Linked DNA regions of Homo sapiens. The protein of the gene in region 2 interacts with the protein of the main gene of each other region in a pairwise test. Each region holds a gene or a part of one and is shown on either strand. Other genes may lie near its edges.

What was found.
Region 1: the proteins of TAAR9 (region 2) and SLC41A1 interact in binary tests that used the Homo sapiens proteins (3 or more experiments, as listed by UniProt).

Annotation. Positions count from the first base shown.
Region 1 is NC_000001.11:205,799,583-205,803,332, forward strand, and holds part of SLC41A1 (solute carrier family 41 member 1), read right to left. Parts: intron 1,479-3,750; coding exon 1,371-1,478; intron 249-1,370; coding exon 177-248; intron 1-176. UniProt on the Homo sapiens protein: Na(+)/Mg(2+) ion exchanger that acts as a predominant Mg(2+) efflux system at the plasma membrane.
Region 2 is NC_000006.12:132,536,369-132,539,908, reverse strand, and holds TAAR9 (trace amine-associated receptor 9), read right to left. Parts: upstream 1,633-3,540; 5' UTR 1,620-1,632; coding exon 573-1,619; downstream 1-572. UniProt on the Homo sapiens protein: Olfactory receptor specific for trace amines, such as N,N-dimethylcyclohexylamine (DMCHA) and beta-phenylethylamine (beta-PEA). In contrast to mouse and rat orthologs, not activated by triethylamine, cadaverine (CAD) or spermidine.

The sequences.
Region 1 (3,750 bases), on a different chromosome or scaffold from region 2:
TCATCTTGGGCGTTTTCCTGGGTAACCTAGTTACCTCCTAGAGCTACTCTGGGGGAAGCCAGCTCAGTGGGATACTGGAGATTCACTCAGGAGCCTGCTGGGGCTGACCTAAGCCTTTCAGAGATTCCTGACTAAGGGGAAGCTTAGCCCACCCTCTCTGGTCCCTGCCTTCTTACCTGGATGAGGGCCATGTTCCCAGTGATCATCCGCCAGAGCTCCTTGGGTGTGTCCATGTGTCCAATGTTGGCCTGGGAAAGGGAGGGCAAGGGGCTGGAGCTTCAGGCTGGAAAAGGCCTGAAGCTCCATCCATTAGGCTCCTGCCTAGATCATGAGGCAGTACATGTGGCCTAAGACTCTGAGAGCAGGACCTGACAGTCCCGGAAAGGTGAAGCAGGATCAGGGAAACTGAGGTGAAAGGGAAGGAGCTAAAGCTGGGCTCCTGCAGCTGGGTGGGGGGTTGGAAGGGGGTCCCCTAGGCAGTCGCCTCTCTTCCTCTCAGGACACCAGCTGAGCAGAGGCAAATTCTATCCTTTGCCCTGCTTATCTGGGCAGCCCATTCCTGCATGGGTCAGAACAACCCAGTCCCTGACTCTGAAGCCAGCCTGCGATCCCAGGGAAGGAAAGGTCAGCTGCTGGTGCAGGACTGAGGCTCCAAGAGTATTTGGGAAGGAGTGGGTGGCATGGGCCAGAAGTCGGGTATGGCAAGTCAGGGTGGGTTAACTTGGATGCCACTTCTGTCTGTCACCTTCTCTAGACTCTTGACCCTGCAGGGAGATCCCTGGCCTCCTGAGTTTTATCATCTCCCACCTCCAGCCCAGGGCCCTGTATCTGTTCAGGCCCGGAATCGTCACGGCTCACAACTGTGGGAGGTAGGAATGACGAGCAGCTCCTCTCTGTCTGTTTCCTTAAAGAAGAGCAAGCTGCCATGGGTAAAGGGAATGGGATGGCCGGGGGGCTGGGGGTGCTGGGAGGGCCTGGCTCTGCTCCCGCCCAGCTGCAAAGCAGGGGCTGGAGATCAGAGGAGGCCCCCATCTGTGCGGGTGGAGGAACCAGCATGATGCCTGCCTGTCAAAGCTGCACAAACAGTCACGAGGTGGTTGAGAGGTAGGGGGTGGGGCAGGAGTCCAGGGGTGGCTGGGACATCCAGAAACCAAGCCTGGGAACCACTTTGGGCAGGGAGCCCCTGCCCAGGAGCAGGACACCCAGCCTGGGATCTCCCTACACCTGCCCAGCCAGGCCCTCCCTTCCCACCCCAGCCCCACACTCCAGGCCTGGGCAGTGGAGAAGGGCTCGTAGCCCTCTCCCAGTCTCTGGCTCTGTGCTGCCCAGAGTCCTCTCTGTGCCCCACTCCTCCCAGCCAGGATACTCACTGCAGTGGAAAGCCTTGATGCCAGGGTCATTTCCAGGTTCCCTTTGAGCCCCAGCAGCGCAGGCACTAGGATGAAGACCTCTGTCACCTTCTGGAAGACTTCCCAGTGCTACGAGGTGAAAACAGAACCCAGGAATTTCAGTGCCCCAAAGGGCGGGCATTGAGGTTCAACAGGTAGTCTGAGATCAGGGGCTCGAGGAGGAAATAGAATCAGCAGGGAGTGAGCACGCCAGCCACCTTTCCTCCAAGAACCTTGGAACCAAACCAAGCCCATGATTCTTCAAACAACACAACCCCCCTTCCTGCCACCCAGAACCAGGGAGATGGAGAGGGTTTCTGCCGGTTGGGAGACTCTCAGTCTGGCCCTACCTTTTCTGTTTTCCTGGAGGTGGGTGGGGAAGGGTAATGGGGACCCACACAGCTGAGCTGCCCTGGGCTGCCTGACACCCCAGAAATCCTTTGCAATCCCCCCTCAAATTGCAATCCCTGGCCCCTTTGCCTTCAGTCCAGTTTCTCTGTTGTCTCAGCTGTGAAGAGTTGGGCTCCACAGGGCTGGGGCCGAGGCTGGGGAGATTAGAGAGTTTGTTTGGTTTCTATCTCCAAGGGCTTTGGGCCTCAGCCACAGCAACTCTCCTTCTGAACAGGCTCTGAATTAAGACTGTGGCCCCTAAACCTCTGAATGCTGGCCTGCAAGAGGCTTTTTATTTCTCTGTGCACTGCCTTACCCCCACACACCTTCCTCAATCTCTCAGCTAGGAGAAGCAAGTGTACTCCTGTAGGAAGAGCCCTGGACCGGGAGTCAGGAGACCTGAGTTCTAGTCCCAAGACAATCAATCCTGGCTCTCCTACCAATGTCTTTGGTTAACATCTATTAAGGACTGATTGTGTGCTAGGCTAAGTGCTCTCCATGTATTTTCTCTTTTAATCATCTTAACAACCCAGTAAGGTAGGGGCTATTTTTATTCTCATTTTGTGAATGAGTAAACTGGGGTTCAGACAGTATTCCACTAGTTAGTGCTAAGAGGACTGCAGGAACCAGGACTGGCTATTTGAAAGCTACTTTACTTGCAATTGAAACTGAGGACTTGCAAAAAGGTTTAGGATTGTGTCTCCCTCCCTGGCCCTAACAGGGTAGGTGGTTTCTTTTATTTGTTTTAAGAATGGAAAGCCTCCAGGTTTGGAGAGGGAGGAGGAGGCAGGAGGCCAGGCGGATATATATGGGTTGGTCTGCGTATCATGGCTGGGAGGCCAAGCACTATGTTTGGCAAGGGCACTGGACCAAGAGCCTTGGGTCTCCTACAGGAGACAGCAGGGATGGCCCCCTGCTTATCTCCCCAGTACACCTCCTCACGTAGACCGGCTGGACACCTTAGACAAGTTACAAGGGCCTCAAGCTCTTGAAAAATGTTCAATTCAGGGACCAGATCAGATGGTCTTTCAAGGCAATTCCAACACCCACACTCTGTCGTTAAAGATGAGCAGTGGCCGAGCGCAGCGGCTCACACCTATAATCCCAGCACTTTGGGAGGCCGAGGCGGGCAGATCACCTGAGGCCAGGAGTTTGAGACCAGCCTGACCAACATGGAGAAACCCCGTCTCTACTGAAAATACAAAAATTAGCTGGTCGTGGTGGCACATGCTTGTAATCCCAAGCTACTCGGGAGGCTGAGGCAGGAGAATCGCTTGAACCCAAGAGGTGGAGGTTGCAGTGAGCCAAGATCGCACCACTGCACTCCAGCCTGGGCAATAAGAGTGAAACTCTGTCTCAAAAATAAAATAAAATAAAATAAAATAAAATAAAATAAAATAAAATAAAATAGATAAAATAAAGTTGAGCAATACTGTAGATTAGTAAGAGATCACCTCACACTCATTAGGATGGTTACTATTTAAAAACCCAGAAAATAATCAGTGTTAGCAAGGATGTAGAGTTTGGGCTGGGCATAGTGGCTCATGCCTGTAATCCCAGCACTTTGGGAGGCCAAGGAAAGTGGATCACTTGAGGTCAGGAGTTGGAGACCAGCCTGGCAAACATAGTGAAACCCTGTTTCTACTAAAAATACAAAAATTAGCCGGGAATGGTGGCGCACACCTGTAATCCCAGCTACTGGGGAGGCTGAGGCAGAAGAATTGCTTGAACTTGGGAGTTGGAGGTTGCAGTGAGCCGAGACAGTGCCACTGCACTCCAGCCTGGGTGACAGAGCAAGACTCCGTCTCAAGAAAAGAAAAAAGCATGTGGAGATTGGAACCCTTGTGCACTCTTGGTGGGACTATAAAATGGTGCAGCTGCTATGAAAAACAGTACGGTGGTTCCTCAAAAAATTAAAAATAAAACTACCACATGATCCAGCAATCCCACTTCTGGATATTTATCCAAAAGA
Region 2 (3,540 bases):
ATGAGCAGGAAGAACTGCCAGGGTTCAGAAAATAAAAGTGCTCAAGCATTTTTCAGATGATCTCTGAGCACTAGAAAGTTCTGCATTCCAGCTCTCTATAAAGTCTTTTTACATTAAAATAAAGTTTCAAGAATTTATAATACTGTGTCTACTTCTCAAGCAAGATATACGTCAAAGATTTTTGTCCTCAGAGAATCTAACTTATAAGTAAAGCAGGAGCTTTACTTTCCCCTTTGTGTATTTTGGACAGCTGAACACTGATCATGAGTGTGGGAGAAACTACAAAACTTGAAAATATTTGAAGATACGAGTAGGAATCTCAGAGAAGAAAGTAAGGAACCAGAAAACCATAAAAGAATGCTAAATGGAAAAGAATCAGCAAATCTTATTCACTTATCACTAAATCTAAAATATGTCAAAATACATGAAGACAACAAATGCTTTAGAACAACTGTTGAATGTATTGTCCTACAACTTGGCATATGATCATGCTTGCCTCTCTATGTCCAAGTGTTTATTTTTGCAGTTGACCTTAATTTCAAGTTAGTTTTGAGGTCTCTACAGTAATGTTTTTAATCTGTCTCTACTTCTTCAGAAAATAAATTAGTTGTTGACGAATCAGTCCTTAAGACCTTGCCGCTTACAATAAGTTTTATTGCCTTCCCAAACCATTGGTAAAAGAAAGCATAAATCAAGGGGTTCATAGCTGAATTATAATAAACACACCAAACTAAAATCTCATAAACATAAGGAGGAGTTATAAAATTCATATAAGCATCAATCACTGCATCAACGAGGTATGGTAGCCAAGAGACAAGAAATGCTGCCATAGCAATTCCCAAGGTTTTGGCAGCCTTTCTCTCTCTTTTTGCTACTCTTTCCTTGTAACTCTCTGAGGAGGACTGAGCTTGGCTGGCTGTACTTTCTATCTTCCTAGCCTGATGCTTGGCCACCAAAAATATCTTACTGTATATAAACACCATGGCGACATTGGGTATAAAGAATAGAAGAAAACAAAGTAGGACCCAGTTTTGATTCAGTGGAGCCTGGCAGCCTCCTACACAGGTTAGAGCAACTACTAATTCCTCAATTCCTTCTTCGTTGGCTCCCGTGTAAAAGATCGAAAAGCTGTATGTGACAGAAAAGAACCAGGAAAGAACAATGCATATCCCTGAAACTGACACAGTAAACTTGGTTGGATAGGTCAGAGGATCAGTAACAGCAATGTATCTATCAACAGAGATACAGCATAAATGAAATAAAGAAGCAAAACAGAAGGATGTGTCAAAACATGTATGGAATTTACAGTAACTGTCCCCAAAGTACCAACAGCTCTCCACAGACCTCACTGTGCTGAAGGGCATCACAGTGACTCCCACCAAGAAGTCAGCACAGGCCAGCGACGCAATCAGAAAGTTTGTAGGTGTGTGCAGTTGTTTGAAGTGAAGGATAGCAATCATGACCAGTAAGTTTCCAAACGCTGCCAGCACAGCCCCAAAACCAAGGACGGCGTAGAGGATAGATCGAGGACCTGGCGAGTAAGGAGTTTTAATGCAGGATTCGTTCACGTTCTTGTAACACAGCTCCACAGCCTCAGCTTGGGAGAAATTGTTCACCATTGCTTTCTTGTTTGAACTATTTTAAAGTTCTCAAATTCCTGCTTTCAAAAATTTTTTTAAAAGGAAGCAATTTCAAAGTCTTCTAGGAGGGGAAAATATCTCCAGTTAAAATGATAAAAGTTTGTGATTTTTCTACCAGTGCTTTTCCATATTAACTATAACGTCTTGATCTTTCTAAAAAGTGTTCCCACATTCACATTTTAATATATTTAGAGTGGAAATATGTTGCAGAAAGCCATTAAAAATATAGTCAAATATATTCCTAATTAAATGGCTGGCAATACACTTAGTCCAATGAGATATATATATAAAATTTACTAATCATTAAAAAATTATTTTCTTGTGTGTTAGTTTATCTTCTGAAAAATCTCATCTATAACCACCACAGTTGAGAAGTAATTAGGCTATCAAAGGCTGAGCTTTATTTCTTACATTATCTCCCCTGAGCAGCACTTTAGCAGTAATGACAAACTATGCTTCATTTATTCATGAAGGAAGAGGTAAATTACATCTCCTTCAAACTATACCTTCAAAATCCCTATGGTATGGAGTGTGAAGATTAAGGAAAAGTTTCCTCATAATAGCTTTAAACTTACTTTAGGAACACATTTCTTCTACTACTTATGTTTTCAGAATTTGTATTTTTTTTCTTTTCATATTCTTTCACGATTCAGACAGCTTGAGATGATTTAGAGAAAAAATCTTATTGAACTGATATTAGTCAGTGTAAAAGTATTTTCCAGGCTAATAGGCAGTGTTAGGTGTCTAAAATTAATAATTAAAATAAGCAATAACTCACCTAACATCTTACCTTCCCATCCTTAGAAAAACGGTGTAGTTTTAAACCTATCACAGAAGAATAGACAAAAACTGGGGTGGACCGGAGGGATGTTTTTAAATAAGCCATATCCTTGAAGAATAGATTCATGCTGAGTCATCCAAGGTGCAAATAGAGACCAACTTGATTTCTCTAGGTGTATGAGTCTGTTCGTATACTGAAGCTTAGGGTCTTAAGAAGGTTTAAAGAGTTCACCTAACAACAGTGAATGGTTTTACTTCATTTAACCATGAATAAGTGCAACCTTGCATTGGAATCTTAATCTTTGAGCTAGAGACTGAACTACTTTTATTGGCATTAACCCTATGCCATGGGTCTGGGCTCTGTTGAAAGTACAGATTCCTAGAAAAGGTTACATGCATACACATAAGTCAAATATATTCCTAAATAAATGGCTACTCTTTCCTTGTAACTCTCTGAGGAGGACTGAGCTTTTCTTTATAAGGCTACAGTTTTTAGGTAATAGGCTTCACTAGTCTGTGAATTTTAAATTTTGTGTGTGTGTGTTTGTGTGTATACAGGTGTGTGTACAGGTATTTTCAGGTTTCTCTAGTATTTTCTGGCTTCACTGATCTATGAGTTTTAAATCAATTTATTTTTACTTTTATTTCCCAGTTCTTTCTTACCAGAGCCCTCACTAGTTTGATGGCACAAGACTTAATCTCCTCCTTGCAAAATGTCTCCTTGTTACTCCTAGGATTCCTCAGAAAAGTGCATCTGTGTGCACACAAGTCAGTCTACCCAATAAAATCACATTCCATACCCCCATGTTCTCCTCTTCTTCCCCAGGTCTCCTAAGGTCCACTGCATCTCTTGTTTTACTCTCAAAATGGCTAAAAAAATTCCACCACTGCCACATACGTGGTGCCCTGCCTGAGATTCTGAATGTCTATTTAAAGAATGCTATTTTCCTAAACTTTAAAAATCCCCACTTCCCTAACACCCAATTGAGGATGCTGTTGTGCAAAAAGATAGTGACCACTTTCCTCAGTTTTTTATACTTGAGCCCTAAAATAGCAGCCTTTAGTCTCGTAGAGTGTCTTAAAACTGGCCCATTCCTGGAAGCCAAGACACTTGAGTAGC